Linked DNA regions of Homo sapiens. The protein of the gene in region 1 purifies or fractionates together with the protein of each later gene. This does not show direct contact. Each region holds a gene or a part of one and is shown in the gene's direction. Other genes may lie near its edges. The genes, in order: TTC39B and PREPL.

Evidence for each region.
Region 2: the proteins of TTC39B (region 1) and PREPL purify together in Homo sapiens (affinity purification with mass spectrometry, with the first as the bait; one large-scale study listed by BioGRID). This does not show direct contact.

The regions. Positions count from the first base shown.
Region 1 is NC_000009.12:15,300,616-15,304,441, reverse strand, and holds part of TTC39B (tetratricopeptide repeat protein 39B), read left to right. Parts: intron 1-3,826. UniProt on the Homo sapiens protein: Regulates high density lipoprotein (HDL) cholesterol metabolism by promoting the ubiquitination and degradation of the oxysterols receptors LXR (NR1H2 and NR1H3).
Region 2 is NC_000002.12:44,340,957-44,344,782, reverse strand, and holds part of PREPL (prolyl endopeptidase-like), read left to right. Parts: intron 1-196; coding exon 197-263; intron 264-831; coding exon 832-1,038; intron 1,039-2,230; coding exon 2,231-2,366; intron 2,367-3,826. UniProt on the Homo sapiens protein: Serine peptidase whose precise substrate specificity remains unclear. Does not cleave peptides after a arginine or lysine residue. Regulates trans-Golgi network morphology and sorting by regulating the membrane binding of the AP-1 complex.

The DNA.
Region 1 (3,826 bases):
CTCATTGGAGGCAAAAATTGGTTATTGGGGAGCACAAGCATCTTAGATATTATAATGGTGTGTGGCCATTTAAAGCTCAATCAACAAAAGCTTGTTTCTTAATATTTGAATTTCTCTCATTGGGTTTTCTTGTGTATTACACTAGCAACATTGATAATGGATTCATGGAAGATGTACAGAATATATTCAAGGTCAATCCAACAAATTTATAACGTAGAGATGGCTGTGGTTGGAAGACTTTCTCTCTAGTTGCCTGATCTTGAAGTCATTTTAGTTGGTTACCTTCACATACTTATGGGCTACCATTGGGTGCCTTGTGGCTTGCTTATATTTGGCCCTCAAATATAAGGATTTGAGAATTGAATGAAAATCATTTATATTTTATTATTTAATTCAATTAAGATTATTCAGCTCACCAATAATTATCTCAAGTGCCAAAAAGGAAAACATTGACAGTATTTGAATTAATATCTAGCAGCTAATTAAGTTAAAAATTTTCTCATATGAGGCCAGGTGTGGTGGCTCATGCCTGTAATCCCATCACTTTGGGAGGCTGAGGCGGGTGGATCACCTGAGGTCAGGAGTTCGAGACCAGCCTGACCAACATGGTGACACCCAGTCTCTACTAAAAATAACAAAAAAATTAGCTGGGCGTGGTGGCGGGCACCTGTAATCTCAGCTACTTGGGAGGCTGAGGCAGGAGAATCGCTTGAACCTGGGAGGCAGAGGTTGCATGAGCTGAGATCGCACCATTGTACTCCAGCGGGGGCAACAAGAGTAAAACTCCATCTCAGAAAAAAAAAAAAAATTTTTCTCATATGAAACAAAAGTTCACTAAAAATCACTTTTCAACCTGCGTAACGCAGTGAGACCCTGTCTCTACAAAAATAAAAATATGAATAGTTAGCTGGGCATGGTGGTGCCCGCCTGTAGTCCTAAGTTATTCTGGAGGCTGAGGTGGGAGGATCACTTGAGCCTAGGAGGTTGAGGCTGCAGTGAACTCTGATCATGCCACTGCACTCCAGCCTGGGTGACAGACCCCGTTTCAAAAAAAAAAAAAAAATCACTTTTCAGAAAATGATTTTTTCAATAGTTTTACTTTTGCTGGAAAATAACAGTTTTGAATGTTTTTTGAAAAGTTGATTACATTGCTATTATGTAGGTATAGAAATTGATAATTTGTATATATAATTTGATGCATTATATTTAACATTATATTAAAAGTCACTCAGCAAATACAGTTATAAAGTTAAATGTTCATAGATTTTTTTTTTGAGTTGGAGTCTCCCTCTGTTGCCCAGGCTGGAGTGCAGTGGCACAATCTCGGCTCACTGCAACCTCTGCCTCCTGGGTTCAAGCGATTCTGCTGCTTCAGCCTCCCAAGTAGCTGGGACTACATGTGCGTGCCACCACGTCCAGCTAATTTTTGTATTTTTAGTAGAGACGGGGTTTCACCATGTTGGCCAGGATGGTCTCGATCTCTTGACCTCGTGATCCGGCCGCCTCAGCCTCCCAAAGTGCTGGGATTACAGGCATGAGCCACTGCGCCCGGCCAAATGTTCATAGCTTTTTAAACATTTTTTTCTTTTTTTGGTGGGGGATGGAGTTTTGCTCTTGTCATCCAGGCTGGAGTGCAATGGCATGATCTCGGCTCACTGCAACCTCCGCCTCCCGGGTTCAAGCGATTCTCCTGCCTCAGCCTCCCGAGTAGCTTGGATTACAGGCGCCCAACACCATGCCCAGCTAATTTTTGTATTTTTAGTAGAAACAGAGTTTCAGCACGTTGGCCAGGCCGGTCTCGAACTCCTGACCTCAGGTGATCCACCTACCTCGGCCTCTCAAAGTGCTGGGATTACAGGTGTGAGCCACTGCACCGGCTTTTTTTTTTTTTTTTTTTTTTTTGAGACGGAATCTCGCTTTGTCACCCAGATTGGAGTGCAGTGGCGTGATGCATGTGCCACCACACCCGGCTAATTTTTTTGTATTTTTAGTAGAGACGAGGTTTCACCATATTGGCCAGGCTGGTCTCGAACTCCTGACCTTGTGATCCACCCACCTCGACCTCCCAAAGTGCTGGGATTACAGGCGTGAGCCACCGCGCCCGGCCTTTTTTTTAAAGACAGAGTCTTGCTTGGTCACCCAAGCTGGAGTGCAGTGGCATGATCTTGGCTCACTGTAACGTCTGCCTCCCGGGCTCAAGTGATTCTCCTGCCTCAGCCTCCGGAGAAGCTGGAATTGCAGGCGCCCACCACCACATCCAGCTAATTTTTGTATTTTTTTCAGTAGAGATGGGGTTTCACCATGTTGGCCAGGCTGGTCTCAAACTCCTGACCCCAAGTGATCCACCCGCCTTGGCCTCCCAATGTGCTGGGATTACAGGCGTGAGCCACCGTGCCCAACCTTACACTTAACTTTTAAAATATTTATTGAGTCATTCTGATCCTGTTATTGAATTAAAAAAGTAAGCTTTATACTTAGGCTCCTTTGAGGGTTGATAATGAAAAAAATTAAGACACTGACTAGGAAATAAATGGCTTATGTGACATGTTTTTACCGCCTGCTTTTTGGCCCAGGAATTTTTAGATCTAATTCTGATTTGGCTAATTTCTCTTTGGAAGTTTAGATGAAGTTTTGATAAAATTCATTACCACAATTTTCTTTCTTTTCTTCTTCTTTTTTTTTTTTTGAGATGGACTCTCTCTCTGTTGCCCAGGCTGGAGTGCAGTGGCACGATCTCAGCTCACGGCAACCTCTGCCTCCCGGGTTCAAGTGATTCTCCTGCCTCAGTCTCCCGAGTAGCTGGGGTTACAGGCATGCACCACCACGACCATCCAATTTTTTGTATTTTTAATAGAGACGGGGTTTCTCCATGTTGGTCAGGCTGGTCTCAAACTCCTGACTAAAGGTGATTCGCCCACCTGGGCTTTCCAAAGTGCTGGGATTATAGGCGTGAGCCACTGCTCCCAGCTGAGATTTATTCTTTCATTCCACCAACGTTCATTGAACGCCTGGCAGGTCCTAACAGTCTTTAAATGCTGGATGTACACACTAAAACAAGACAGTTATTACCCTTGAGGAGCACAACGTCAAGCAAAACACTTAACACAAGTCACTGTACTATTTCTATCTTTGGGTTAGGGTAGGTTTTAGGTAGGAAGGTCATATAATTTATCATTCAAAGCAGGGCACTCTGAGTAAATGAGCGCTTTCAGTAATTGCACTAAGACAACAGGTACAAACAGGGATGATTGGCTTCCCTTGTTTAGGGTCCGGCAAAGACTTGAAAGGAGAGATGGTATTTGAACTAGGTTTCAAAGGGCAAGTGGGATTGTGTTGGGCTCCCCAGTGGGAAGGCCTTGGGGGAAGTTGAGATGGGCGGGAATAAGAGAGCACTTGGTACAGTGGGAAGGAGAGTGTCAAGGGCAGAAACCAAAAAGGCTGACTTGGGTCGTGAGTCATTGTGTCCTGAATGTCACGCTAAGGAATTTGGGTTGTATCTCCTAAAAAATGGGAACCTGGAAGGTTTTTTTTTTTTTTTTTTTTTTTTTTTGAGACGGAGTTTTACTCTTTCACCCAGGCTGGAGTGAAGTAGTGGGATCTCGGCTCACTGCAACCTCTGCCCCCACAGCCTGGGTTCAACCGATTCTCCTGCCTCAGCGTTCCGAGTAGCTGGGATTACAGGTGCCTGCTACCACGCCCAGCTAATTTTTGTATTTTTAGTAGAGACGGGGTTTCGCCATGTTGGCCAGGCTGCTTTCGAACTCCTGACCTCAGGTGATCCACCTGCCTTGGCCTCCCAAAGTGCTGGGATTACAGGCGTGAGCCA
Region 2 (3,826 bases), on another chromosome or scaffold:
TTATGAACATACGAAAACCATATCTTATCAACTACATTGTAAAAATGGTCAATTTTATATTTCATATGTGTTCATTCATATACTTCAACAGGTCTGTTTTTTATAAGAGTCTTCATTTCATCTTCATCTTGAATAGTCAGACTATGAAAAGGTTAATTAAATTATTATTAAGTAAACTGCATGTTTCTTTTGTCAGGTTAAACATGGTGGTTTTGTTTATTACCAAGAAGGTTGTTGCTTGGTTCGTTCCAAAGATGAAGAAGGTACACCACAATTTTTCTTTTTACGTGCTCTAATTTTCAGATTTCATATTTTTTATAGGAAATTTATTAATTTCTCAAAGATAGAGAAAAGATTTTTTTAAAGATTATTTCTGAATTTTTTTTTAATGACTAGTTTTTAATATCTGGGTTTGTGTAAGATATAGTTAGACTCAGAAGCTTTGGCAGGGAGAATGGAGACGGCATCCAGCATTTTTTGAGCATCTGCTGTGTCTTGGGTACTATGCTAGGCACTTGGCATATATTGTTGATTGTCATTTATATTCACTTACTTTCTAGGTTCTGTATGGTCTGTAAATACTAAACTAGACTATAACAATATCAAATAATGTCTCATAGGTTGATGCACAGAATAGTATTGAATAGTATAAGGTAATATTAAATAACTTATTGTCAGTTGATGTGCAAGTTAAGCTGCCATCATTGTTGAAAGAAGCTAGGATATGGCCTCTTACAGAATGGGAATTCTAATTTAAAACATTAAAATACAGTTTTAATTTTTTAAAGTACATCCTTTGAAGTTATCACTTTCGTATTTTTCTTTATACAGCAGACAATGATAATTATGAAGTTTTATTCAATTTGGAGGAACTTAAGTTAGACCAGCCCTTCATTGATTGTATCAGAGTTGCTCCAGATGAAAAATATGTGGCTGCCAAGATAAGAACTGAAGATTCTGAAGCATCTACCTGTGTAATTATAAAGCTCAGCGATCAGCCCGTAATGGAAGCTTCTTTCCCGAATGTGTCCAGTTTTGGTAAGCCACCAACCAAAATAGTCCTCTGTGTTGAAAGGCAACGGTAACACTTTTGAAACATTTTTTTGTCGCATGTGAGGGAGGGAGAAGGTGAATGCCTGATTCATGTATCCCTATGGACTATACATCTTCCTATGTACCTCTTATTCAGGAGACCTTCCCTTATTTAATTATATATCTAGATGGGTAATTTTAAAATACTCATGTTTTTAAAAGTGTTATAATTAGAGTCCATGTCATACAATATGTTTTGATTTATCAGAATTATTTGCCAAATTATTATCTAGAATAAATTTTTACACGTAAGTTGCATCTTAATATTTTATTCAACTTTAAGCTTGAATGTATTTTTTTAATTTCATGTTATCTTATAGAGCTGTTACAGCATAAAGTCACTACCAAAGAACTTGGTATGTGTTGAACTAACCTGTTTATCAATGGAAGCTGTGACATTTTTAGTAATAGAACTAACTTTAAATTTATCATTGAGTGGTACATATGTTACATTTTGTCCTCCCTTTTCATTTTCAGCCATCATTTTCTCCATTGTTTAACTAAATGTTGTTGCAGTGAATTGAAATTATACCCTAACTATTGAATTCTAAGACATATATTTTGTACATTTTATAACCTTTAAAATCATGGTGCATATTATACAATGATGACTTACAATCACTGTCAGCCAGGTGGCAGTCATGGTGTAATTGTGTGCAAACTTCTGTTGACAGCTTCTGGTGGGATCAAGAATCAGCATTAAATTGTGTTTGGTAGTTGGAGATATCCTGTGGCTTGAAAGCAGACAGAGAAGGTTTACACATGAGAGAAAGATGCAATATTCCTTCAGACTTACAGTTTCAAGTTGTAGATTGAGACGGAATTCACCTCCTAAAAGCAAATGTGACTTTACCAATGTCTTTCCTAAATATTGAGCATTTAGCTCTTATTTAGAAACCTGAGTACCCTGAGACTGATAACTACTTGAAACCTTGGAATGGTGTAGTAGTGGTTTATTCTCAGGAAAGCTCTCTGGCTTATATACAGCACAGATTAGATACAGTCAAATATTTAGATTTCCAGGGATAAACTTGCACATGTTCTCACTGGCATTCAAAATTAGAATGTGCTGTGCTTTTTTTTTTTTTTTAATGGAGTGTAGGTGATTATGTATAATTATCTCATTATTTTCTTTCAGAATGGGTAAAGGACGAGGAAGATGAAGATGTTTTATTCTACACCTTCCAGAGGAACCTTCGCTGTCATGACGTATATCGAGCCACTTTTGGTGATAACAAACGTAATGAACGCTTTTACACAGAAAAAGACCCAAGGTACTAGAATAATATAATTAAATCTTTCTCTCCAGAACCTTCCTCCAGTTATTTAAAGTACTGACTTTGGTTGACTTAAAACGTTTATTTTGGTTGGAACCAGGAATAATAAGGCTAAAACGATCATTCTTTTATTAGTTGTTTGTATTCAAAATTGGAGTCTGGTAATATTCAAAATCAGAGTAAATACAGATATATCACTAATATTTTATTAAAAACTGAAATTGATTTTGTGAATTACAACATAGTTCATTCATGTAAATTCATAAAGATGACCTAGAACTGCTAGATTGTGAACAGACTGAGTCTGTTTCACCTTTGCATCTTAATTGATAAGCAGGGTGCCAGGTTTGTATAGTGCTATTTAGTCAGTATCTATTGCTTAAATAAATGGTATATACTTAGATAGGTATCTCTCTTTCAAACTAAAACCCCTTGTTCCTGATGATTGTTGAGTACCTTTTAACCATTAAATTCTTAGTAATATATAGAAGAATTTAAAGTATGTGTTGCTACTAAATTATAAATTAAAACTAACTCAAAAATGTATTATTGTGCTAGGTGAAAAAATTAAATATATGCTATGGTTTCAATTGGGTATCAAGGAAAAAAGATGCATTTTTAAAAGATTGAAAGGAAATACACCCAAAGTACTAACAATGGTTTTTTTTTTACTTTTCTTTTTTTCTTTTTGTAATAAGCATTATTATTTTTATAATACATTTTAAATTTAAAAATAATTGTCGATAGAAATAATTGGAAAAAAAGATTAATGTCTAGTTCTTTATATTTCGTATATTCTCTTAGACACATTTTACCCTAGAGCCACTTGTGTTCTCACTTCCTGTAACCACATATCTAACAACTATTTGGTCAAGTAGTTTATTTTTAATTTGTCATCACCAAACTAAGCAAACAAAAATATATAAAAACAGCGAAGAAAGTGTTGAAAATAAAGAGCAAAGTAGGGTAGGGGACTTGCCCTACAATTATATATTAAAGCATATAAAGCAATAACAGTAAAAATAATACAAATTGATAGACAAATAATAGAGCTTAGAATAACTCTAAAACATAGATCCTAGTCTATGTGAAAATTTATATGATAAAAGGCATCACAAACTAATGAAAAATGAATCGGTGTTATTTTATAATGCAATGGGAAATACTATTTGGGAAAAAATAATTTTCATCATTGTATATGTCAGCATACATTCCTAAGAGATTTAAAGAACCCATTGAGAAAAATAATTTTTTAATAAGATGAAAATATAAGCTTTTTAGTCAGCTTGGTTGGAATATTTTTGAAACATAAAATCAATATAAGAAATTACAAAGGGTAGTAGCAGTCTCGATTACGTAAAATATTAAACTCAAGTCAAAAACCACAAAAACTATTGTAAATAGTTAAAATCTAGGTAACAAAATGGAGGAAAGTGTTTTCAACAAAAAGACAAGTT